5 separate regions of the Homo sapiens genome follow, and all the other regions are linked to region 3. The links come from fine-mapping of genetic effects on gene expression. A gene starts in region 3. Each other region holds a variant in brackets. All regions are shown on one strand. Distances are between the middles of the regions.

Region 1 (5,104 bases), 21 kb after region 3:
CAGGGTTTTTCAAAATAAGGGTCCAAGATCCACCTACATCAGAATCATCTGGAGTGATTATTAAAATAATGAATTCTGGAGCCTTCCCTCAGTTGTAACAGTCTGAATTTGGGGTGATGGAGACCAGGAATTTGCCTATTTAACAGGCTCTCCAGGTGATTTGAATGTACATGGAAGTTGTAAAACCACTGGTATAGATCATATGGAGAGAGGGTTACCTGTTTAAAATACAGATTCCCAGGCCTGTCTCTTTAAGGCTCAGGTGGAGGAGGTCCAGGAAAGGGGATAGGGAATCTGTGGTAAAATAATCAAGCAAGTTTGGGGAACGGTAGGCTATAGAAACTCTGTAAAGCCCTTAGATTTTTACATCTAGAATTCTATACCCAACACTTTGGGTAAAGCCTCCGGGAGGCACTTTAAAAGTGGACTTTACTCACGTGCTCCTGCAGGGAACAAGATACAGATAATCCCGAATCGAGCAAGAGTTCTTTTCTGGAAAGCCTCGGGTAAGTTGATTTTTAAGTAGGATGGAATCCCGTTGATTCACTCTGAATTTCAGGACATTTAAGTAGCATCTGCAAGGTGATGATATCAGTGTGTGAAGGAAAGGGTGTGGCTTCCAGATAATGGTCCTTCCTGTTGAATACAGCATTTTCCTTTAATGCAGAAAAAAAACTATGTATGACTTGATGGAGAGCTTTACATAAAGTCCAAGGAGCCATTTGAAAGCTTGCATCAATTCGAGAAGCAGACTGGACTGTGGCTAACTAAGGCAGTTTACTAATAGTGTGAAGAGAGGGAGTGTAATATTGATATGGCAAAAGAGAATTGTTGCTTTGGTGTTAACCAGGTGTCCCTTCTCTGCAGTGATGTTTATCCATGCATCGTTGAGACTTCGGAACCTCAAGAACAAACTGGAGAATAAAATGGAAGGAATAGGTTTGAAGAGGACACCGATGGGCATTGTCCTGGATGCCCTAGAACAGCAGGAAGAAGGCATCAACAGACTCACTGACTATATCAGCAAAGTGAAGGAATAAACATAACTTACCTGAGCTAGGGTTGCAGCAGAAATTGAGTTGCAGCTTGCCCTTGTCCAGACCTATGTTCTGCTTGCGTTTTTGAAACAGGAGGTGCACGTACCACCCAATTATCTATGGCAGCATGCATGTATAGGCCGAACTATTATCAGCTCTGATGTTTCAGAGAGAAGACCTCAGAAACCGAAAGAAAACCACCACCCTCCTATTGTGTCTGAAGTTTCACGTGTGTTTATGAAATCTAATGGGAAATGGATCACACGATTTCTTTAAGGGAATTAAAAAAAATAAAAGAATTACGGCTTTTACAGCAACAATACGATTATCTTATAGGAAAAAAAAAATCATTGTAAAGTATCAAGACAATACGAGTAAATGAAAAGGCTGTTAAAGTAGATGACATCATGTGTTAGCCTGTTCCTAATCCCCTAGAATTGTAATGTGTGGGATATAAATTAGTTTTTATTATTCTCTTAAAAATCAAAGATGATCTCTATCACTTTGCCACCTGTTTGATGTGCAGTGGAAACTGGTTAAGCCAGTTGTTCATACTTCCTTTACAAATATAAAGATAGCTGTTTAGGATATTTTGTTACATTTTTGTAAATTTTTGAAATGCTAGTAATGTGTTTTCACCAGCAAGTATTTGTTGCAAACTTAATGTCATTTTCCTTAAGATGGTTACAGCTATGTAACCTGTATTATTCTGGACGGACTTATTAAAATACAAACAGACAAAAAATAAAACAAAACTTGAGTTCTATTTACCTTGCACATTTTTTGTTGTTACAGTGAAAAAAATGGTCCAAGAAAATGTTTGCCATTTTTGCATTGTTTCGTTTTTAACTGGAACATTTAGAAAGAAGGAAATGAATGTGCATTTTATTAATTCCTTAGGGGCACAAGGAGGACAATAATAGCTGATCTTTTGAAATTTGAAAAACGTCTTTAGATGACCAAGCAAAAAGACTTTAAAAAATGGTAATGAAAATGGAATGCAGCTACTGCAGCTAATAAAAAATTTTAGATAGCAATTGTTACAACCATATGCCTTTATAGCTAGACATTAGAATTATGATAGCATGAGTTTATACATTCTATTATTTTTCCTCCCTTTCTCATGTTTTTATAAATAGGTAATAAAAAATGTTTTGCCTGCCAATTGAATGATTTCGTAGCTGAAGTAGAAACATTTAGGTTTCTGTAGCATTAAATTGTGAAGACAACTGGAGTGGTACTTACTGAAGAAACTCTCTGTATGTCCTAGAATAAGAAGCAATGATGTGCTGCTTCTGATTTTTCTTGCATTTTAAATTCTCAGCCAACCTACAGCCATGATCTTTAGCACAGTGATATCACCATGACTTCACAGACATGGTCTAGAATCTGTACCCTTACCCACATATGAAGAATAAAATTGATTAAAGGTTTTTTTGGTGAGACTTTATTTAATGCACATCTGTCTTAAATACCTGAGAAACTTGG[C/T]GACGACCCTATAAACAGTGAAGCAAACACTTCAGCTGTTTCAAATACTGTTTAGTAAAGCTTGAATACTTTATTAACTTGCAGCCAGAATAAAACAATTCCAGTGGGATCCTATTTTTAAACCTGGCACGAGTTTTATATACATGTTAGCCCAGTTTTATATACATGTTAGCCCATTCCATTTTCTACAAGGTGAATTCTGCCGATAAAATCCAATAAATTTGGAGAAACTAATAAAAAAAAAGATACCTGTAATTACTAATGGCCAGTAGTCAATTCTGGAAGGGTAATAACAGAAAAATGTAACATATAAATGTTGTAAATTATGATTACATTTAAAAACAAGCTAAAATCTGCAACTAAGATCTTTAGGGTTGGGTGGTAGAAAAAGCATAATGTGAACTGCTTCACCTCTTTTGGCAAAACCTGTGTATTGAGGCCATAAGCTATGAAATTGGATCATCTTTTCTTCTTGTATATCTAAGATAAAAACCCTCTTACTGTGCATTTTGAAATTCCTGACTTTAATAATACTGTGGCTATACAAACAAATGCATAGGGGCTTTCTAGAATTTTTTTTTTTTTTTTGAGATGAGGTTTCGCTCTTGTTGCCCAGGCTGGAGTGCAATGGTGCAATCTCAGCTCACTGCAACCTCCACCTCCCATGTTCAGGTGATTCTCCTGCCTCCCAAGTAGCTGGGATTACAGGCATGAGCTACCATGCCTGGCTAATTTTGTATTTTTTTTTTTTTTTTTTTTTTTTTTTAGTAGAAATGGGGTTTCACCATGTTGGTCAGGCTGGTCTTGAACTCCTGACCTCATGTGATTCACCCACCTCGGCCGCCTACAGTGCTGGGATTACAGGCATGAGCCACCGCACCGGCCTAGAATTTCAACTACTAATTTACATTAAGCTTTTAATTATGTTTAAAGTGCTTTTCCTATCAGAGTTTAGCCTCTTAGATGTAGTATGTGCTAGACACTTGAAGTTTTGTTTGTTACAGCCCTTTCTTAGCTATCCTGCTTTGTATGCAAGGATGTTTTCTAGAAATATTGAAGGGTGAGAAAACAAAACTATCAGCCATTGAAAACTATATTTAAATTTGGATACTTTTGTACATACTAAATTATCTTAAAAAAATAGAAACGCCATATTTCTTTCCCATGGCTTGTCTTTCCAAATAATGTGTTGTTTTTAAGTCTGTCACAATTAGACCTATTCTCCCCTAGCCTGTTTGGTTTGATACATGCCACTTATGATAACATAAAAGGAGAAAGAAGGCAGGTGCCAATTATTTACTCAGGTAAAGAAGAGAGAAAAGGCACCAAAGGTTTTTTTTTTTTTTTTTTTTTTTTTTTTTTTTTTTTTTTTTGAGATGGAGTATCACTCTGTCACCCAGGCTGGAGTACAGTGACGTGATCTTGTCTCACTGCAACCTCTGCCTCCCCAGTTCAAGCAATTCTCCTGCCTCAGCCTCCCGAGTAGCTGGGATTACAGGTGCCTGCCATCATGCCCAGCTAATTTTTGTATTTTTAATAGAGACGGGGTTTCACCATGTTGGCCAGGCTGGTCTCGAACTCCTGACCTCTGGAGATCCTCCCTCCCTGGCCTCCCATAGTGCTGGGATTACAGGCATGAGCCACCGCACCTGGCCCAAAGCTTGATTTTCTAATTTCTAGGGTTCACACTACTTCTATTATTACAAAAATCTCAAATTCTATGCACCTAGTGGCTAGAATGAATAATTAAGGCCTCTAGGAACTTGGAAGAAGGACAGATTGGAGTTGTCTGGAAAATTTTTTATGGAGGACACAGGATCTGACCCGGGAGTTGAAGACTGGGTAGGACGTTCATTAATGGAGAACAGGAGGGAAGTCTCTTGGAAGGATTAATGCGAGCAAAGGCACAAGGGTGTGCACAAGGATGTTTCATCGAGTAGAGTATAAAGGATTTGTGGGAAATAAGACAGGATTAGTAAATTGGGGCCAGGCAATGGAGTGCCTTAAAGAATAGGATAAGTAGTTCAAGTTTAATCCTTCCTGTAAGCAAGTTTCCTTTAAAATATGTTTGAGAGTGATAAAATCAAATTAGACTTACAGAGTAAACACATATGAGCGTGTGTGTGTGTGTGTGTATTTAGCCAAAACCAAAAGCTTGTCAATAACTATATTATGTAAAACTTCTTTTCTATAAAAACAGCATGCTGTCTCCCATTGTCCCTCTATATATGAAAACTTGCTGCCAGGAAGTTTTCATATATGCAGGGTTTACTTTCCCATTACTTTTCCTAGTGACACTTAGTTTTCACCATGTTCTGTGGCTTACGTGTTCTGCCCCTCACAGGTACCCCTATAGAAAGAATACTCCAAAACACCAAGGGAGTCACCAAGAGAGAAAGCCAGGCAGGGTGGGAAACTGAAAATCTCCACTGATTCTGCAGAGAAGCTCTAAGGAACAATCCTTCCATTTCAAAGCATCAGAAGGGCCAGGAGCTCAATTCATCCTTCACATTTCCATAGGATGAAACATTATTTGTTCCCTTTAAGATACTATGTGATGAATTACCGCAGAAGAGATG
Region 2 (5,104 bases), 93 kb after region 3:
GTTGCTTCATAACAAACATAGGATCAGATAAAAAACGCAGCAAATGTTTGAAATCCAGCCTACCAACTGTCTAAGGAACCTTGGTATGAACAGCCTTTCCTGGAGTAGAGAGATTTTTCCTGCAAGGTTTCAAAAGAGACTTAAATGGACATATCACTAATAGGATTTCAAGTACCATAATTTAAAAAATAAAAGCTTCAGACTCAGAATTCAATGTACAGACTAAAGAACAGAATGCGTTAGATGAGGGGTTAGCAAACTTTTTCTTTTCTTCTCTTTTTTTTTTTTTTTTTTTTTTTGAGACGGAGATGGAGTCTCGCTCTGTCGCCCAGGCTGGAGTGCAGTGGCGCGATCTGGGCTCACTGCAAGCTCTGCCTCTGGGGTTCACGCCATTCTCCTGCTTCAGCCTCCCGAGTAGCTGGGACTACAAGCGCCCGCCACCATGCCCAACTAATTTTTTGTATTTTTAGTAGAGATGGGGTTTCACCGTGTTAGCCAGGATGGTCTCGATCTCCTGACCTCATGATCCGCCCGCCTCGGCCTCCCAAAGTGCTGGCATTATAGGCATGAGCCACCGTGCCCGGCAGCAAACTTTTTCTTAAAGGCCAGATATTTTTGGCTTTGGTGTCTGTGCAAGTAGTTCTTTGTAAACATTAGAGGAAATATACAAGAATTCAATGTAATACTGAAGACCAGGGTCAAATCTGAATGAGTTAGATTAGGGGTTAGCAAACTTTTTCTTAAAGGCCAGATACTTTTTGGCTGATGGTGGCCAGATATTTTTGGCTTTGGTGCAACTACTCAGCTCTGCCCTCATAGTGCAAAAACAGCCATAGAGAACATGTAAGTGAATGAGGGTGGCTATTCTCCAATGAAACTTTATTTACCAAAACAGATGGCAGCTGGAGTTGGCCCACAGGCTAGAGTTTGCCAACCCCTGAACTAGATTATCTGACGTTTGTAAATTAGGATCCCTGAATTCTTTTGAACTGGAACAGGCTCCTAGGATTTTCGAGCATTGCTTCCTCACCTGCTTGGAGAGGGTAAAGGATTATAGACATTGCCATAGCAGCTGGTGTAAGAAGAATGTGCTGGAGTCTCGTAATCCGACAGCCCTATGGTTAACTGGGTCCTCCAGTTCCCAGAAGCATTTGTAGAAGACACTGGAAATAAAAATGGAAAAAGATAAAATTAATGGAAATATTAAAAGTGAAAAATTGTTAAGGTCATTCAGAGGTACATTGCAATCAGCTTTGTCAGAGGAGAAATTTAAGAGGGTTTGAAATAACAGAGTTCCTATTCCAATTTAGTGACTTCCTGGCTATGTGACCTTAGGCAAGTAGTTTATCCTCTTTAAGCCTCAGTTTCCTCATCTATAGAGTAGGGATAATAATATTAATATATTCTGTATAGGTATGATGCCAGGATTAAATAAGGTAATTATGAAAATCTTTAGCACTGTACTTGATACAAAGTACTCAGTAAATAACTATTAATATTATTATTGAGAATAAGATTAATTGAAAGATAAATTTGTCAATTCAAAAAATAATCTAGGTTGGGGCCAGGTGTGGTGGCTCATGCCTGTAATCCAAGCACTTTGGGAAGCCGAGGCGGGAGGACCACTTGAAGCTAAGAGTTCAAGACCAGCCTGGCCAACATGGTGAAACCCTGTCTCTACCAAAAAATACAAAAATTAGCTGGGCATGGTGGCGCATGCCTATAATCCCAGCCACTCAGGAGGCTGAGACAGGAGAAATACTTGAGCCCATGAAGTTTAAGTTGCAGTGAACCAACATCACACCACTGCACTCCAGCCTTGGTGACAGAGTGAGGCTCTGTCTCAAAATAAATAAATAAATAAAAATAATTTCAGGTCAGCTCAGTGGCACAAGCCTGTAATCCCAACACTTTGGGAAGTCAAGGTGGGAGTAACGCTTGAGCCCAGGAGTTCAAGGCTAGCCTCAGCAACATGGCAAAACCCCATCTCTGCAAAAAATACAAAAATTAGCCTGGCATGGTGGTGCACACCTGTAGTCCCAGCAACTTGGGAAGCTGAGGTGGGAGGATCACTCAAGCCTTGGAAGTCAAGGCTACAGTGAGCCATGTTTGCACCACTGCACTACAGCCTGGGCCACCAAGTGAGATCCTATCCCAAGAAAGAAAATAATAATAACACATAAATAATTTTTAAAATAACTGAAAAGACAAGCAAGAAAACAATTCTCATATATTGCGAGAATCTTCCCATTCACGCTATGGTGTTATAAAGGTAAGGTGATGAGTCTGGGTTTGTCAGAGGCCTTGGAGGAAATGTGTTCCATAAGTTGACTTATTGAGACTTGACTATTCCTCAGCCAAAGACAACACTGGCCGCTAGCAAGATCAAGGCTATTTTTTGTCTTAAAAAAAAGTGTGTATGTGTTGGGGTGTGGATTGGGGGAAGAGGCGAGGTGGTAAGTAGCACAGGAAGGAATTCAGGAAGAAGGGATTTAGTTCTACAGAGGAACTGAACTGGAACAAGACAAGGACATAATTTGGGAGCGAAGCCCAACAAATGCCTCATCACTGGGCGTTTGTTGTCCTCTCTATAAAACCAGTTCTGCTCCACGCCTAGGATGGACAAGATAACCACACGCCATGATACTCGTTCAAGACTCAAAAACCAGCACTGCCCTTTTTCCATTTCCTGTTTCTGGCTTCAGACCTACTCCTCTTCTCTCTCATACACACAAAGTGCCTGTGATCACTATGGGACAAACGCATTTCAAAACTCATCTGTGGCCCTGGATGTCATGAGGTGTTGACTAACAGATGTAACACT[C/CT]TGAGTTTGAGCTTCCAAGCCATTTCCAAACTGAAATCAGAGGCTCTAAGCCTTGGTGGTTAAGATGTTAGAGCTGTGGGGCTGGGTGTGATGGCTCATGGTTGTAATCCCAGCACTTTGGGAGGCTGAGGTGGGAAGATCACTTGCAGCTAGGGCTTAGAGGCCAGCCTGGGAAACAGAGCCCAGTCTCTACAAAAAAATAAAATTAGCCAGGCATGGTGGTGTGTACTTGTAGTCCTAGCTACTTGGGAGGCTGAGGAGGGAGGATCGCGTTGAGCCAAGGAGTTTGAGACTGAGTGAGGTATAATAGTATCACTGCACTCCAATGTGGGTGACAGACTGAGACTGTCTCTTTAAAAAAGAAAAAAAAAAAAAAAAGGAGCTGAGCTAGGACAGAATCCCCAGAATCCCCATCCCACCACTTAGTAGCTTTGGAACTTGGGTTATTTAAACTCTGTAGCCAGAGTTGCCTAAGCTGCAAAATTAGGATGATAACAATAAGCATAACAATAGCAATCACTATATAGAACTGTTGCATACATTAAATAGGAGAGTGCATGTAATGTTCTGAATGTGCATGGCATCTAGTAAGCTGCCAACAAATGGTAGTTGTCATTACTAAAACTGAGTCACCGAGAGATCCTTCAGGTGGCTGGAAGGGACTACAATGCCAGGACTAATCTGGCAAATAACTGGAAATTTATCACTCCATGAGAATGACGCCTGCCTGTTGTAATACATTTCTGCAGTTTTAAAGTGGAGACAGAAATGAGGGGAATTCCAGCAGGGAATTCTGGGAGTACTGATTCCACCCCTGTAGTTCTTTAAAGAGTGATGCCTTTTGGTCTGTGGGGCCACATCTTGCTGGTGTCAGCAAGGCTCACACCAGGTCTGAAACAGGAAGCTTTACCTCCATTTCACCTTTACTAAGCTAGCAGCCAGGAATGTTGAGTTTCCTCAGTTAACACCTGCTTCCCCCAGGCACCACCCCAGCCCTGTGCCGTAGTGACCATCCACATGCATCTCAGCCCTCCTTGTTTGGTCTTTCCCTTGTAGTACTCTGTCTGTTCTGCCCAGGTTTGACCTGTGAAAGTTTCTCACATCTTGAACTTTAAGAGGAAGAAAGGTGTTTTCTAGGTCAGAGCCATAAATAAGAAATAATTACCGAAGCCCTTTCATATGTTAGATGTGGTAATAGATGGGACAGCCCTAGTGGAAGTCCAAAGTCCTGCACAAATAGGAGAGAACTTGAACCCAAATAGAAATCTCCATGGAAACGCCTCATCAACAAGTACATGAAACTTTTAAAGGTGTAGTTTTCACTTGACTATTATACAATGACTCAGGAATCCTTATACTATGTCTCACTAAGGTGTCATGTTAATAAGGGAGAAGGTGAGACTCATGACCTACAGGTTTTCTGGCAGTTTGAGAATTCATTCATTTCTTAGCGTTTTAAAATTGCTTAATTTTTAAACATTCCTCTGGCTGCTGACTCTGAGCTCATCGTGGCCAGGAACTAGTTCAACAATGGGTCCTCCACATCTTGAATGTGGCTGCTCATTTGCTGAATAAATAAAACCATACACAGAGCCTCCCCTATCTTCTATTTCTCTACTTAAAGTACCTAGTACAACTGGGAGTAGGCAGGAAGTCCTCCACAAATGTTAGCAGAGTTAGGGGCCAAAGTCAACATCAAGAGTATAAAGGAAACATCTCTAATCAAAATTATCTTTGAAAATCCCTTAAGTCAACCACAACATAGGTATATATGAATACTGAATTACAATATGCATGGCCAGGCACTGCGGCTCTCACATGTAATCCCAACACTTTGGGAGGCCAAGGCAGGAGGGTTGCTTGAGGCCAGGAGTTTGAGACCAGCCTGGGCAACATAGCAAGACCCAACCTAAGCCTCCTTGTTTCTACAAAAAAAAAAAAAAAAAAAAAAAAGCAAATTACTTAGAACAGTGCTTAATCAATGCCAGCTCCTATAAGGATTCTTACGAGCCTTATGCAGGCACTTGCCTAAGTACCTGCATAATCCCAGGCTTGCATTCAAAGCAGTCCTTAGATGATCAATCTTGGTGGTGAACCAGGAGGGATGTATAATTCTAATGTTTTCTGCTTACCTGAGGGTTTATTCTTTTAAAATATCAAGCCTCAATGACGTGAACACATTTAAGAGATGTGCCTGTCAACGTAAATCCTAAAAAGACAAAGCAAGTGAAACCCCTAACACATCCCAGCCTAGGCGACAGAGTGAGACTCCTTCTCAAA
Region 3 (5,104 bases):
TTGGAAGATAAAGTTCTTAGTTACAGCTTCTAATACTCATAAATCTCACCAACAGTGTGGGGCCCCACTGGAGTTCCCACTCTCATCTTGACCAAGATGATTTACTCAGCTTGCCCACAGTGCTGCCTCTTGACATTCTGAAGCCCTGGGGAATTCCTCCACACCCTCTGACTTCCTGTAACTGAGCACTGAGGCTCAGTGCATCTCTATTTAGCACTCCTCTTACTGTCTCATATTTAACTAGTGTTTCCACTGGATTGCAGAAGTTTTGAAGGCAGAGCAGGATTACATTTTTCTCCTCTTTAAAAAAAAAAAGAAAAGAAAAGAAAAAAAACCCACAGTGCTTTCACAGAGCCTCAAAAGAACTCGAAATACTTGCTGGCATTGTACTGAATATTCTCAACCTTTTCCCCCTACCCAGATACATCCACAACAATAAAGTTGGAGCAAGGTAGAGAAAAGTTAGTAGATGTTTATAATGAAAGCATAGAAAACAAATCAGATTAAAGCACTATTAATAGCAAACAAGAATCGTGGGCTATCCTATTGCTAATAACAATAATAGTAACATATAACTGTGAACCTTTATTATACACTAAGCATTTCCTATACATTCCTTCACTTAGCCTCGTCTATATGGCAGATGTTCCATTATCCCCACTTTACACATGAAGACACCGAGGCTGGGAGAGATTAAGTAGTTTCTCCAAAGTCACCTGCCAGAGAGGAAGGAGCTGCGACTCTAATTTTGCTTTCTCTGACTTCACACCATCCCATTTTTCCAGAATCAAGAAAACATGAGCACTCAGGAATATTTTCACATTTTAAACTTTATTCAAAAAGCAGCACATAAGATATATCTTAGCACTAATTCCATGCAATCACCAAATTTTCCTAAACAACAGTAGTAGTAGTAATTTCTTAGAGTCGCTGTAAGCTCCTTAACTGTCTTCTGAATTAATAAGGAAAATTAAATTATGTTTTCTAGACTTTGCATTAGTATATTTCATTACTTTCCAAGTTTTCAAAAATTGGTGATCTGAGTAGAGTGAATTCACCTTGTCTAAGCCACTTAGGGGCTTAGAGACTCTGTTATCTTAGAAATCTTCACCTTAGAATTCTACCTATTACATTATACAATTAAACAAACTACTTTTTTTCTCATGCATTGTACCAATCAGCCCCTTAACTGAAAAAAGATGACCCTTGGAAGCTTAGAAGAGAATTGACAACGAATACTTCTTTTGCCAGGTCTTTGGGCTGGGATACAAAACATCACGTTATCTATGAATATATTGTGGTCCCTCAGTGAAAGCTGTCACCAAATATTGCAATAAAACTAAGAAAACTTTTGAAGTGGAATGCATATTTCTGCCCAGAAAATGCTGGATGCAGAACAACTAGTTCACTGCAGACAACTGTTTGCTTTAAAATGTAAGCAACATGCCCAGCTCAGGACTGAAGTGGCCAGAGTGCCTACTTTATCAGAATGGCATAGCAGTCCAACAATTTAGCCTAGAGAGAACAGAGGTGGAGAACAAAGAAGAGAAGTGAAAAAAACAGACCAGCCCTTCTGTTCTACATGACCTTCTTTCCCGTTTTGCCAATCTGATTTCACACATAGTGACTCATGGTGAAACAGAGAAAACATGGGAATTGCATTCAGATGTGTAGAGGTTAGTAAGACTTAGTTTTCAAAAGCAGCTCATTCTCCATTAACACTGTAGTCGCCTTCCATTTCATTTCACTTAGATTGGCATCTGCACAGCTGCCAAAATTTTTCTCTAAGTCAGAGAACACACTCCTAGGTAAACCTTCAAAAAAGGTATTTCGAAGGAGGCAGCTTCTCTGCTGCTAGAGAAGGCATTGCCACCTCCCTTCAGACAGGGGATTTCCGCTAGTTGCTTTCTGTCATTTCGTCTCTATTCTGCACTCAGTCCCTTGTTCTGTCTGGAGGTTCCTGTTTTCCTGTACCCAACCAAGAGCCAATGAAGAAGTAAAGAGGAGCAAACACGCCCGCCCACTCCCAATTTCCTTTGCTCTGCTGTCTGCCAACCGCAAAGCCGACCGAGACGGAGCCGCTGTCAACTCTCCAACTCAGCTCAGCTGATCGGTTGCCGCCGCCGCCGCCGCCAGATTCTGGAGGCGAAGAACGCAAAGCTGAGAACATGGACGTTAATATCGCCCCACTCCGCGCCTGGGACGATTTCTTCCCGGGTTCCGATCGCTTTGCCCGGCCGGACTTCAGGGACATTTCCAAATGGAACAACCGCGTAGTGAGCAACCTGCTCTATTACCAGACCAACTACCTGGTGGTGGCTGCCATGATGATTTCCATTGTGGGGTAAGTGGGGTCCCCCTACCCGGGACACCGATCCGGGGCGAGCACGGAGGGGCCTCGGGGTGCAAGATCCCGGGATGTAGAGACGCTCTCTGACCACGCTCAGCGCCTGCCCTGGCAATTCTGCAAGCGGCCAAGCCAGTGGAAACTTGTTTGCAGGGCGAGGCCGCAGTAACCTGGGGCCCCATTTTCTGCACCAAGGGCTGAGACTTGAGGGGGGCCCTAGGGGAAAGAGGACGGGGAAAATTTGCCAGCCGCAGGGAAGAAAAATGAGAGTTCCCCCACCCCCCTGCCCCCGCCCGCGTGCCAGGATCGGGCTCTTGCTGGAAAGATATTTGTAGCGCCCTCGTCTTTTAAAAATAAGAAGAAAAAGGAAAGTGGTGTAACCCTACCCTGGAGCTGGCTGGGGCGGCAGGGTGTGGACCCGGGCTAGTGTAAAAAGGGCAACCAAGTGGCGACGCACTTTGCTGCTTTCTCTGCCTAATGCCTGCCACACTGTACAGTAAAGCTGAGCTTGGGATCAAAAGGGGGGGTGTCTCCTGGTGGCGCATCTCCCATTGTGGGGTAAAGGCTGCCATGACTGTGGGAAGATGGCCTTCTGGCATTTTCTTCCAGCAGTGGCCAGGCGTGGTCACTTTCTCTGTCTTCGCTTCCTAGCCTGAGGTTTCAATGTATCAGAAGGCCTTTTCAATACCTGATACTTAACAAAGTATCCTGTGTTGAGACTGCATGTACACCTGCTTTCCTAGAAACCACCTTTCCTTCTAGTTCACCCTTTAAGAAATGCTTCTCTCGCTTATGCAGGATGGGTGGTGATATTCTCAATCTTGCTGATTATCTCCTACACATCTTTAAAGAAAAAGCCACCCTCAGACTTTATAAAGGACTCACTTGCACTTAAATGTCTGACATTTCTATTTCAGGGCAGACGTAGAGGGAAGAAGCAGCAAGCTGGCTTGGGAGAAAAGGGAGAAATTTGCACTTGAAGGGTGTGGGAAAGGGTGAACAGGGTGGCTTCTTCAGTTGGCTCGCAGTTAATTGGCTTATACATTGAGCCACCTCTCTGTGCCTGGCCCCATGCCAAGCTCCAAGCACACCAAGATGAATCAGACTTGAATTCTGGCCCAGGGGCTCCTGGCAGTTGTTGAGAAGCTAAAGGAGCAAACACACAGCACAGAGGAGAGGGGGAGACTTCACAGTTTCCGAGTATGGTTCACAGCAATCACCCCCATGCAGAGGTGGAAGCCCACATGTGGGACTCTATACACAATCGCACAGATCCTTCTTCTGCATTGCTTAAGGAATTCTTAAGGAATTGCATTCTGGGAATGGCTTGGTGTATAGAGGGCACAGGCTCTGAGTGGACTCGGAACTAGTGTGGCAGCCAAGGTACAAGTTAGTCAGGGCAGGGTGGGGCAGGCCCAAGGCCTGAGGCAGCTGCCTTCTGAACCTTCCCTCAGCTCTGTGCTTCAGGCTGCTTTCCTGGAACACTAAAAAATTTCTTTTTTTTTTTTTTTTTTGAGACTGAGCCTCGTTCTGTCGCCCAGGCTGGAGTGCAGTGGCGTGATCTCGTCTCACTACAACCTTTGCCTCCCGGATTCAAGTAATTCTCGTGCCTCAGCCTCCAGAGTAGCTGGGATTACAGGCACGTACCACCATGCCTAGCTAATTTTTGTATTTTTAGTAGAGACAAGGTTTCACCATGTTGGCCAGGTGATCTGCCCGCCTCAGCCTCCCAAAGTGCTGGGATTACAGGCGTGAGCCTCTGTGCCTGGCCAAAAATTTCTTTTTAAAAATTTTTATTATTTATTTACTTTTGAGACAAGGTCTTGTTCTGTTGCCCAGGCTGGAGTGCAGTATTGTGATCACAGCTCACTACAGCCTCAACCTCCTGGGCTCAAGCAATCCACCTACCTCAGTCTCCCAAGTGACTGGGACCCCAGGTGCGTGCCACAAAGCCTGGCTAATTTTTTTTAGAGATGGGGTCTCACTATGTTGCCCAGGCTGGTCTTGACTTCTGGGCTCAAGCCATCCTTCCACCTTGGCTCCCAAAGCACTGAGATTGCAGGCGGGGGCTACTGTGCCTGGCCAAAAAAGTCTTTAAAACAAAATAAGTAGTAAATAGGTTTGCATCAATTTTTGTTTTTTTCTTTCTCTTTGCAAAGAAGCAGGAGGGCATCTTATCTGGTGATCTAGTTATGGAGGTATTTTCTTGAGGTAACTTAGATGTGGGGCAAAGTTTGACACAGACCAATAATTAAAAAAAAAAAAAAGTCTATTTTCTTCAGACATGTGTGCTGCCCAGACCAGGCACAAGCTCAGACAGCCTTGCTGCTTTTGATAGAATCCATTTTTCACTGTGAAGGCCAGGGGCCAGCCCTTTGACTAAATATAGCTCCGTCAGTATTGTGCCTTAGGCCACTAACTCAGGTAGTTTAGGGGTGTTGGCCCTCCTCATTTTCCTTTCAAATAAGAGTTGTTGGTTGTCAATGAAAATTTTGAAGTGAAAAAGTGAAAAGTAGCCATGAAGTTTTTAAAACTTATCCTTATTTTTAAAAACTTACAAAAGATACAGGCTAGTAGTAAAGGTTGATTTGAAAATTATGTGGATAAAATGTGAAATTTCCTTCATACTTCAGTAAAAGTTTGGTATATAACCCCTAACTGTTTTCTATGCAACTATAAGCACAGTCAGTAGTTTTTTCCACCAGTTGTTCTCTTTTCTTTCTTTATCATTTAATAATATAAATATTTATTGAGTGC
Region 4 (5,104 bases), 72 kb before region 3:
GTGTTAAATCTCTTGGACCAGATTTCTCCTATATATCCCAGACAATGATCCTGCCATTCTCAGGTCACTTTAGTGGGATCTTTGTTCTTTTTTTTTTTTTAAGTGCTCTTTCCACTGGATGACAGAGTCTTAATACACACTGGATGTTCATCAGCTAGGACTGCTGTTTCCTGGGTCATACCGGAAAACCCAACTTTCGAAATCAGTCTTCATTGATTATGGGCTGTGAAGATGGAACCTTTAGAAACAGACTGCAGGCCTGTAATAGTAGCACTTTGGGAGGCCAAGACTGGCAGATTGCTTGAGTCCCTGAGTTCGAGACCAGCTTGGGCAACGTGATGAAACCCGGTCTCTGCTAAGAATACAAAAAATCAGCTGTAGTCCCAGCTGAAGTGGGAGGATCACTTTAGCCTGGGAAGTCAAGGATGCAGTGAGTCGTGATCTCGCCACTGCACTCCAGCCTGGGTAATGCGAGGGAGACTCTGTCTCAAAAAAAAAAAAAAACAAAGAAAGAAAGAAGAAAAGGAAATTGACTGCTATGTTCCATCAAACCTCAAGTTCCAAGGCCATGGAATTCTAAGTGAACAGTGGGGACACCAAAAAGGAATCCTTTTTCCCCCATTTTCCCCCCTTGGAGTAGTTAAGTATTGTGGTTTTTCACTTTGGCGGCCCTCAAGAGTATGGTGTTATCTGCTGTAAATCTGATCTGAATTACAATAACATTTTCACTTGGAGCTTTTATCCAAGAATGAGTTGACAGCAGTTTTATAAAAATTTAAAAACACATATTAATAGTAACAATGACTCTACTTGTAATAAAAATATATACCTCTTGAATCTTCAGAACCACTCAGAAGCTTCTGTGATGTTTCAGGTCTCTAAAACCTGTCAGAAATGAAACATATTACCTTAAAAGGATGCTAAAGTAAACCTGATCATTCAGATGATGTTGTGAATTAAAGGAAATATTAAGAAAGAAAATAATGTAACGTGATAACTCTCAGCCAGAAGGCCTGGCCGGTGGTGCGCTTTCTTTTCCTTAATGAATACCACACTGCTATACTCGAGTTCACAGGCACCACCCCCAACACAGCAACTCGGACCAGATTCCAATGGGGAACGGGAGGAGGTGGCCCACTTTCTACAGGCATCCACTGGAACTGGCCAACAGGATACTTAGTGGATCAAACATTCCCAGAAGCAAACAACTTTCCCATTCTCACAGCAGTAATCCCACTGGCTGAATCACAGGGCTACCCACCTAGAGTGGCGAGCCTGAGGGTTCCCAGGCCTTCCTATTTTTTGACTCGTCCTTCCCGGTAATAAAGTCATTGTTATGACCAAGCCCTGACCTTTGGTTATCCAAGTCCATTGTCCTCCAGTGAGCTCTGGCCATCACTAAACTCACCGATCAGTGGAGAAGTAACGCTTAGGCGATGGAAAAAATCTAAAGACGCAGATCAGAAAGCTGGCGTCTGGCGAGGGCATGTACCCACTTGCATAAGGCGGCTGGGGGTGGCTGCTGGGCCTGGCACAAAGCCTTCCTGGTGTCGGTCGTCCTGCAAGGCCCGCCGGGATGGGTGGCTGCACTCCTCCAGCACACGGACGCTTTACTGGCCAGGCTACTTTTCCTTCAGCTCAAAGCAGCTGGAATCACTCCACTCCAGAAACCCTTGATTCGATTTCCACAGGCCTAATGAGGAAGGAAAAAAGGGAAACATCTGAAAGATGATGGATAGGAGGCAAAACCTGGGGTTGACACAGCGGGCGAAATGGGGCAATGTCGCAGAGAGAGAGAGCTTGGAAAAGTTTAAAGACGGCAGTGGGCAAATGGAAAGTTCAACACGTGAGACCCCGAATGACACCTCAACGGCTGGCCCCTACTTGTGCCAAAAAGTCTCTCGGCGGGTGCCAGGCAGGGCTCAGGAAGTGCTCGGCTGCCCCTTGAACGTCAGTCCCGGCAGAGCCCAGCTGTCCGCTTGAACGTCAGTCCCGGCCAAGGGCTGAGGGGTCAGTGGCGAGCACCCCGCCGCGGCTGAGACGCCGCGCTGGGGTTCCGGACCCCGGGCGCCGCCAGGGATTGCTTCGGGGTCGGTGATCTCCCGGGGCCGCCCGCCACCGTGCACCGCGGCGCCCCGGGTCCCCAGCGCGCCTGGGAGGGGCCCCGGGGAGCGGCTCCGCCCCGGCTGGAAACCTGGTCAACGCGGCTAGGGCCCGGGGCCCGCCTGCGCTCCGGGCGCTGGGAAGGGGCCGGGCGCCCGGGGCCGGGGAGGGCCAGGATCGGCTTCCGACGCCCGCCTCCCGGCCCGCAGGGAATGGGAAGGCGCGGGCGGAGTGC[G/A]TGCGTAGGCTATAGCCCTCCGGGAAGCCGCGCCGGGAGCGGCTACCACCCGGGCAAGAACAGCGCAGAGCGCTGCGGCGGCGGGAAGGAGAGCGGGGGAAGGCTCCGCAGATTGCGGGGGAGTCCCACCTGGAGCCGGGGCAGCCGTGAACTACCGAGGAGGAGGCGGAGGAGACGGCGGCTGTTCCAGAGGAGGGAGTCGTCATAACCGGCTACTGCCGCTCACCGGAAACCTCGGGCGCGGGAGCTGGGCCAGGGGGCGCCAAGGAGCAGCTGGGACACCTTGGCCAGCCGGCGCCGTGGGCGGGCTCGGGCCCCGCAGAGGCAGGACCGGGACTACACCCAGGAGGGCCAGGGCGCGGGGCCCGACGCTCGGAGCGGCTTCAGCCCGGCGAGCGGCCTCGACCCGGCGAGCGCAGCAGGGAGGGGCTCAGAGTCGAGGAACCATCTGCCCTTCCTGGCGTTCTCCCGCGAACGTTCGCGCGAGTCCGCCAGCTCCCTCACCAGGGCCGGAAAGACCGACGGCACGTGCCGGCGCCGGACGCCCATCTCCATCGCAGCAGCCCGCGCCTCCTTGAGCGAGAGCGTTAAAGCGCTCAGAGGATGTTAGGACGGGGTGGGTAGAAAACCTGACTCTTCGTGTCTTCTGCGTTGCACTGAGGTGGATTTTTACTTTTGTCTTATTTCAAGCAGAAGTTGCCGCCCTAACTTCCAAATTTGGGGACTGAACATCGTTCACCGAATACACTTTGTGATGGTGAGGATACTTTGGAGTCCACACACATTTTAAAAGCAGTATAGTTTTACCTATCCGTAAACTCATCAAGTTCAAATGCTACTCTGTGGAGTTTAATTTTTATGGTTTTGTTAATTTACTTTATTACTGCTTATAATTATTTGAACTCCCATCCCCCACTGTCTTTTCCTCTAAGCTCCCCCAGGCCTAGTATTCCATCTACAGCACAGTAGAGTTGATCATTAAATAGTGACTAAAGTTGAACTGATTATATGAAGGTGATGACTTCAAAATAAACATGCTCAAATGAATATAGTCACCAGAAGTTAAATAATATGATCATAAGGAAACAAGTTTGTTTCCAAAGGCTTACATGCTTTTTACGTAATTTTTAAAAGTAATGTTGTTTAAGAATTGTTACAAGTTCCATTAGTGACCTGCTAAATTAGGAATCTTACCTGGAATTTTTTTCAAATAATAACAGCAAGAACATGTGGTGTTTAACATGTGCCAAACATTGTTTTAAAGCACTTTACAGTATTAATTTATTCTTTTTATTGAAAAGATTTTGCCTCTAAGGGAACTGTCAAGAGGCATGTGAACCGGAGCAACTCCATCTTAAATAGGAGCTGAGTAAAATGAGGCTGAAACCTACTGGGCTGCATTCCCAGGCCGTTAAAGCATTCTAAGTCGCAGAATGAGATAGGAAGTCGGCACAAGATACAGGTCATAAAGACCTTGTTGATAAAACAGGTTGCAGTAAATAAGCCGGCTAAATCCCACCAAAACCAAGATGGCCATGAAAGAGACCTCTGGTAGTCCTTACTACTATACTCCTATCAGCGCCATGACAGTTTACGAATGCCATGGCAATGTCAGGAAGTTACCCTATATGGTCTTAAAAGGGGAGGCATGAATAATCCACCTGTTTAGCATATCATCAAGAAATAACCATAAAAATGGGCAACCAGCAGCACTCAGGGCTGCTTTGTCTATGGAGTAGCCATTCTTTTCTTCCTTTACTTTCTTTTTTTTTTTCCTTTACTTTCTTAACAAACTTGCTTACACTTTGCCCTGAATTCTTTCTTGCTCGAGATCCAAGAACCCTCTCTTGGGGTCTGGATTGGGACCCCTTTCCTATAACAGAATTACTGCTCTATTATTTTATACTTTGCATACTTCACCATCCCACACTAATGACAGTAATTTTTTAAAATGCTTCCTCAAGCCAGGCACTGTGGCTCATGCCAGTAGTCCCAGCTACTCAGGATGATCGCTTGAGCCCAGTGAGGTTGAGGCTGCAGTGAGCCATGATTGAGACACTGCACTCTAGCCTGGGCCACAGTGAGACCCTGTCTCATAAAAAAAAAAAAAAAAAGCTTCCTCAGCCTACTTGCTACCATCCTATTTTTGTCACATACAAAAAGGTTAAAATCAGTATGACATGTGCATGGTACTATTTTATTTTATTTTTTTTGTAGAAACAGGTTCTTGCTATGTTCCCAGCACTTGTTTCCAACTCCGGGCCTCAAGTGATCTTCCAGCCTCGGCCTCCTAAAGTGCTGGGTTTACAGTTGTGAGCCACCACGCCTGGCTATGTGGTGCTATTTTAAACACCTACATATTGAATGGTCATTCAGACTTACAGGAAACCAGATATGATAAACCTGAACATGAGATTGAGTCTCTCTTACTGTAACAGCCATTCTCAAATAGAATTTCTCTCCAAAATACCAATGTTAGAATTTAAATTTTCTTTGAGCTGACATAAAACTCAAGTGTCTACCAATAGAAGGCTGGTTGAATAAACTATGGTTTATCCATACAATGTAAAACTATGCATGCATAAAAAGGAATTGAGAAATATCTCTGTACACTACAGAATATTGAGTGGGAAAAGGATATGTAATATGTAAATATCATTTTTCTAAGAGGAATATGTGTGTATACATGTGTATACACATATATATTTACTAATTATTATTTTACAAGTAGATTAACATTTAAAATGACTATATGGGCAAGGAGGG
Region 5 (5,104 bases), 210 kb before region 3:
GAGAAAGGAGAACACTCATACATCATTGGGGGAATGTAGATTAGTACAGCCACTGTGGAAAACAATACAGTGGTCCTTCAAAAACTAAAACTAAAAGGACCAAATGATCCAGCAATCCCATTGCTGGATATCTATCCAGAAGAAAGGAAACCAGAATATCAAGGAGATAACTATACTCCCATGTTTATTGCAGCCATATTTACAGCAGCCAAGATATGGGAACAACGTAAGTGTCCATCACTGGATGAATGGATAAAGCAAATGTGGTACATATATATATATAATGGAATATTATTCAGTCATAAAAAAGAATAAAATCCTGTCATTTGCAGCAATACGGATGTAACTGAAGGTCATTATGTTAACTGAAATAAGCCAGGCACAGAATAAATACTGCATGCTCTCATTCATATGTGAGAGCTTAGAAAAGTAGATTTCATACTGGTAGAAAGTTGATTGGTGGTTACCAGGGGCTAGGAAGGGTTGGGAGGAGGGAGAGATGAACAGAGGTTAATAGTTTAAAAAAATGCAGTTAGAGAGAAGAAATATGAGGTAGTGTTCAATAGTATGGTACGGTAACTATAGTTAACAATAATTTAGTTTTAGTTCAAAATAGCTAGAGAAGAGGAATCACAATATTCCCAACATAAAGAAAGGGTGAATGTTTGGGGTGATCGATGTTGCAACTGTCCTGGTTTGATCATTACACATTGTATATATGTATCAAAATATCACATGTACCCCAAAGATATGCACAACTATTATGTAGCAATAATAAATAAGAAAATGCATTAAATTCCAGACATAATACCAAGCTCTTTAGATAAATTGTCTCATTTCATGTCACAAAAATACTTTTAGGTAGGGGATGTTGTAATACTCACTTCCAGGAAGAAGAAACTGAGGCTCAGAGAGATTAAATAACTTTGCCCAGGGTCACATAGGTAGGACTTTGCAGAGAGAAGGCACAAGCATTTTGACTTCATGTTAAATAAATGCTTCCAAAGCACTTGACGATTTTTTAAGATAACGTGAACAGCTCCTTGGTAAATATATTTACACCATTTATTTGCTTAGCAAATCCCTTTTCATAGACAGCATGGGTAAATATCAGCCGTATCATCTCAAGGCTGATCTTTCATCACACATTCCATTACAAATTCTAAAATTAGTAGGGTTCAAACTTAGGTCTCAGTGACTTATAGAAACAATCCAGGTTCTGATGTGTCACACACCTATGAGGCATGCATCAGGCTCATTAGAAAACAAATTCCAGATCAGTACAACATAAGGTAGGAGAGGCTAACAACCTTGCTCTCACCTGGAGAGATCAAACAACGTCATACTTGTTTTCCAGGAGAAGACAAATAGAAACAGACACAGACACACACACAACAGACAGACACACGCAGACATACACACACACACACACACACACACACACACACACACACACCCTGGGCCAGAAAAATGCTGACCTAGCCATTCTGTGAATGTTTCCAATTTCTAGATGGTATCCTGAAAGCAACTAACTAGACAAGTAATTCATATTAATAGCTGCTCTCTCCCTTTCAATTTGGGTATTATTTCCTATTGGATATGTTTAGCCGGCAACAGCTCAAACATATAGACTATGCATAGTTAGAAATCACTGTCCTCCACGGGGCAACACTTACTTGAAAAGCCTGTAAAATGACCACAGGACACTTGCAGGGAGGGCAGAAAACAGCAACATGTTCACATGTTCATTTCTCTAGCTCAAATCCAACCAGCCTTTGAAAGTGCCACTTGAAAGACAAGCCTCCCACTATTTCTTGCAAATGCTTTCTAAACAACAAATAAGACTTTCCAGAGCAAAGGAGACTTTTCCAAAATCTGTAACTGTTTGACTTTGGGGAAGAAGACACACCTCTTGACTCCTTTATGCACAACCAAGTTCGGATTGCTGAAATCTCCCACACCCTTGGATGGCTGGTATTTATTCCCAGCCCTTTCCCAGGTAGCTGTGCAATGTCAGTGATGAGCTACTGAAAAATTGCCTGCTGCTAACAACACTGTTGCTATTCACTTCTTTCATTTCATGCCTATATTATATTTTTCCTGAAACAAATTTCTCTATTGTTCCCTCTCTGCTTCTAGGATCCCATTACCCAATCCCCAACAGCTAA[GAAA/G]AAAACAGAGCCCAGTTGGAGACACCCAACAATCTCAGGCCCTTCTAACCCTGTCGGACTTAGTTATAGTTCTTATCTGATTTCAGACATACCCTAAAATATAAGCATTGATGGTACTTGGCCTTAGTAGTCAAATTGTTTTTAACTCTTGCAAACACAGTCTTCTCACAATCAATCCTTTGTAATGGGTTTTTAAATGTCCCTTCAAAAATATTATTTCCAGTGTTCTATTCTGAGACTACCATATGGACCAAAATATTTAAAGCATCCAAGCAACACCTAGGAAAATACAAAACGTCATTTTTCTTCCTGCCCCGTCTCTACCCCTGCTGTTTCTTTTTACCAATGATTTTATTTTCCTTATAGGGAACAAATGATTCCAATTTCCTCGTATAGCACTGGCATACAGATGAGGTATTGACCTGTAGCTTTTTAAACCCCAAATTGTAGGCTTTGTTTAGATGAGTCTAAGGCCGTGGCTTGAAAGAAGAAAAAGGGAAATTTCTTCTCAAGGGTAAGGAGAATCTTTTCCCAAACTACCCGAGGAACTCTTCAAAGACAGTTGCCTGTTCTGCCCTAAAGACTCAAAGAGGGAAGGGTGAAAAAGCCTACTCTGCCAAGTAGGATGGCTCACAAGCTCATTTGAGGAACTGAAATTCTTTACTCCCGTCAGTAATACAACCCTTTCTTTACACACACACACACACACACACACAAAGGATGTAAAGCATGCTCATTTGTCAGACATTTCACAAAGCTGAACTTGCCAGTGGCACTGGGACTTGAACTTGCAGCTGAGGAGGTGAGAAGAAGCCAAATATGAACACTGCATATAATGTGTTCCTTTCCCTTCTTATTAAAAGCTGAGCCCATCAAGATGGCACTGAAGAAATATAATATGGGGTACAACGGAGGCTAGTGGAATCCCTCACCATGGAAGCTTTTAGCATTCAAAAAGCTGAGCTGGTACAAAATGAGTAAGTATTTTCACAGTCCTTCCCAAGAGGTGGAAATGGAGGTCACCTTGACAGGGTGACAACTCTCCTCAGCCTAACTATGTCATAGCAAGACTGAAATGGAGACATCACCACCCACATCAAACTGTACCTTGATAGGAGCTAGAGTCAAACTTCCAGTTTTTTTTTTTTTTTAACTTCTGAATCATTTGTTCTCATCTTTGGCTGCAGGTCTGAGTAATCAATAGTACGGTTGTTAAATAATACAGGTGCCTGCACTCTACTTTGTAAGGTTCAGATGGAATCTCGCTGCAGTGGGCCCTCTGTGTTTTTCGTGCAAAAGCTCCCCAGGGAGAGAATAAAGTAACCACTATCTTATGGATGCCTTTTTCCATTGCTACCAAAACATAGGACCTTTAAACCATTCCACAGTCTTTTCTTTTTCTTGCTCATAAAATAGTGTATGCTATTGTGGAGTTGCCTGCATAGCAATACATCCATAGATTTACTGAAATAACCATTCACTGGAAGTGGGACAGGAAGAAGGAAGATAGAGAAAAGTACAGGAGAAACCATATTAAAATGGTATCATCAGGTTTCACTTACCCCAGTGGGTAAGTGCTCATTATTGATCAAAATAAGTTTGCTAGTGGGTAACTTTAAGACTTAATGGTTGATATCACATGCATAAACACACACACACTGTCAAATTACTTTTGCCACTTCCCTCTCCCTAAAAATATGCTCTTGCAGAGAATAACAGCATAAGCTATTCATCAGGAAACAGAACTCTTCCCCATTCTTTATTACTTGAGGTTACGAATCCCACTTACCTGGTACTTTTTCTAAATTTAGTAGTCATTTGTTTTAAAAAAAAAAAAGAGAGAGAGAACTAAATAACTAAATAAAACATAAAAGAAATTAAGTGAAATAAAGAGAGATAAAACAATGTGCTCTATGACTGACCCATGAAAATTAAAATAACCCATAATTCCAATCTTTAAAAAAGCAACATTAAGACCTAACTCATTATTAGTTCATGGGACTTATCATAGTAGGCTCTAACCACATGTGACTATTGAGCACTTGAAACGTGGCTAGGGTCACATGTTAAAATGATAATATTTTGAATATATTGGGTTAAATAAAATGTGTTAGTGAAATTAATTTCCTCTGTTGCCTTTTACTTTTTTCAGCGCAGCTTTATAACATGCAAAATTACATGTGGCTCTATTTAGCTATGATAAGCCTTGCCTACCCCCTAGTGTCAGAACTTAGGCAATGCAGGCAAATCATTTTTCAAACGCATCTGTGTTAAGTACAATTCATTTCTGCCGGCAAAGTACAAGTATAGCCGCCTGTACATACAATTTTATCATTTTCACAAATGTTATCTCAAATTTAAGCCTCAGAGAGACTCCTGTAGTAGATGTTATATTCCCCACTCAGTTAGTATTTTTGAAATTACCAGGTTTATTGTAGAAAATTAGAACTAAAACAGCGTATGCTATTTAGTCAAGAGTATTTGCAGGGTTCCTATAAATTTCAGCCATCATAGGGGACAGAAAACATGGGATCAAACTTGGATGCAACAACTGCTCTTCAAAAAATTTACCCTAAGTTAAAAATAACATAAACCACCAAAACACACAATCACAACATGCATATTTTGCATAATCATTTATAACAGAAAAAAAAACAGAAAACCTAAATTTCCATAAATTTGAACAGTACAGAACCTCTACAAAACAGATAACATTCAAAAGAAGAAGACAGCTCTAAATAAGGATAACTAGCATTTGAGCACTCACTAAGCAAACACAGTTCTCAGCATTTCCCAGGTATTAATTGATTCCTTATTATAACCGTGAGACTTATTTTTTATTATTTTTATTATTCTCATTTTACATAGAAAGAGGCTGAGTCCCGAAGAGGTTTCATAACTTGCCCAAGAATGAAAGAAGAACTGAAGCAAAA

What was found.
Region 1: its variant is fine-mapped to the expression of ARL6IP5 in whole blood (TOPMed, PIP above 0.99).
Region 2: its variant is fine-mapped to the expression of ARL6IP5 in blood mononuclear cells (TOPMed, PIP above 0.99). The same link has a PIP of 0.9 or more in T cells, monocytes and whole blood.
Region 4: its variant is fine-mapped to the expression of ARL6IP5 in sun-exposed skin (GTEx, PIP above 0.99).
Region 5: its variant is fine-mapped to the expression of ARL6IP5 in minor salivary gland (GTEx, PIP 0.94).

The regions. Positions count from the first base shown.
Region 1 is chr3:69,103,597-69,108,700 of GRCh38, forward strand. It overlaps ARL6IP5 (ARF like GTPase 6 interacting protein 5), which reads left to right. Exons shown (of 3, transcript NM_006407.4): 3 at 868-2,496. The coding sequence ends at 1,040. LMOD3 (leiomodin 3) reads right to left here. Exons shown (of 3, transcript NM_198271.5): 3 at 2,469-5,104. Among named protein-coding and RNA genes, the nearest start is that of LMOD3, 16 kb to the right of the region's middle. RefSeq lists an enhancer at 224-1,423. The variant C/T (reference allele first, on the strand shown) is at 2,526.
Region 2 is chr3:69,175,494-69,180,597 of GRCh38, forward strand. It overlaps FRMD4B (FERM domain containing 4B), which reads right to left. Exons shown (of 23, transcript NM_015123.3): 22 at 1,031-1,163. Among named protein-coding and RNA genes, the nearest start is that of LMOD3, 55 kb to the left of the region's middle. The variant C/CT (reference allele first, on the strand shown) is at 2,825.
Region 3 is chr3:69,082,880-69,087,983 of GRCh38, forward strand. ARL6IP5 (ARF like GTPase 6 interacting protein 5) reads left to right here and starts at 2,058. Exons shown (of 3, transcript NM_006407.4): 1 at 2,058-2,344. The coding sequence starts at 2,169. RefSeq lists enhancers at 62-221, 1,829-2,138.
Region 4 is chr3:69,011,107-69,016,210 of GRCh38, forward strand. It overlaps EOGT (EGF domain specific O-linked N-acetylglucosamine transferase), which reads right to left and starts at 2,578. Exons shown (of 18, transcript NM_001278689.2): 1 at 2,468-2,578; 2 at 1,409-1,693; 3 at 830-885. EOGT-DT (EOGT divergent transcript) reads left to right here and starts at 2,014. Exons shown (of 1, transcript NR_185971.1): 1 at 2,014-5,104. RefSeq lists silencers at 1,896-2,445, 2,506-2,805. The variant G/A (reference allele first, on the strand shown) is at 2,339.
Region 5 is chr3:68,871,922-68,877,025 of GRCh38, forward strand. All of the region lies in intron 3 of TAFA4 (TAFA chemokine like family member 4), which reads right to left. Among named protein-coding and RNA genes, the nearest start is that of TAFA4, 58 kb to the right of the region's middle. The variant GAAA/G (reference allele first, on the strand shown) is at 2,169.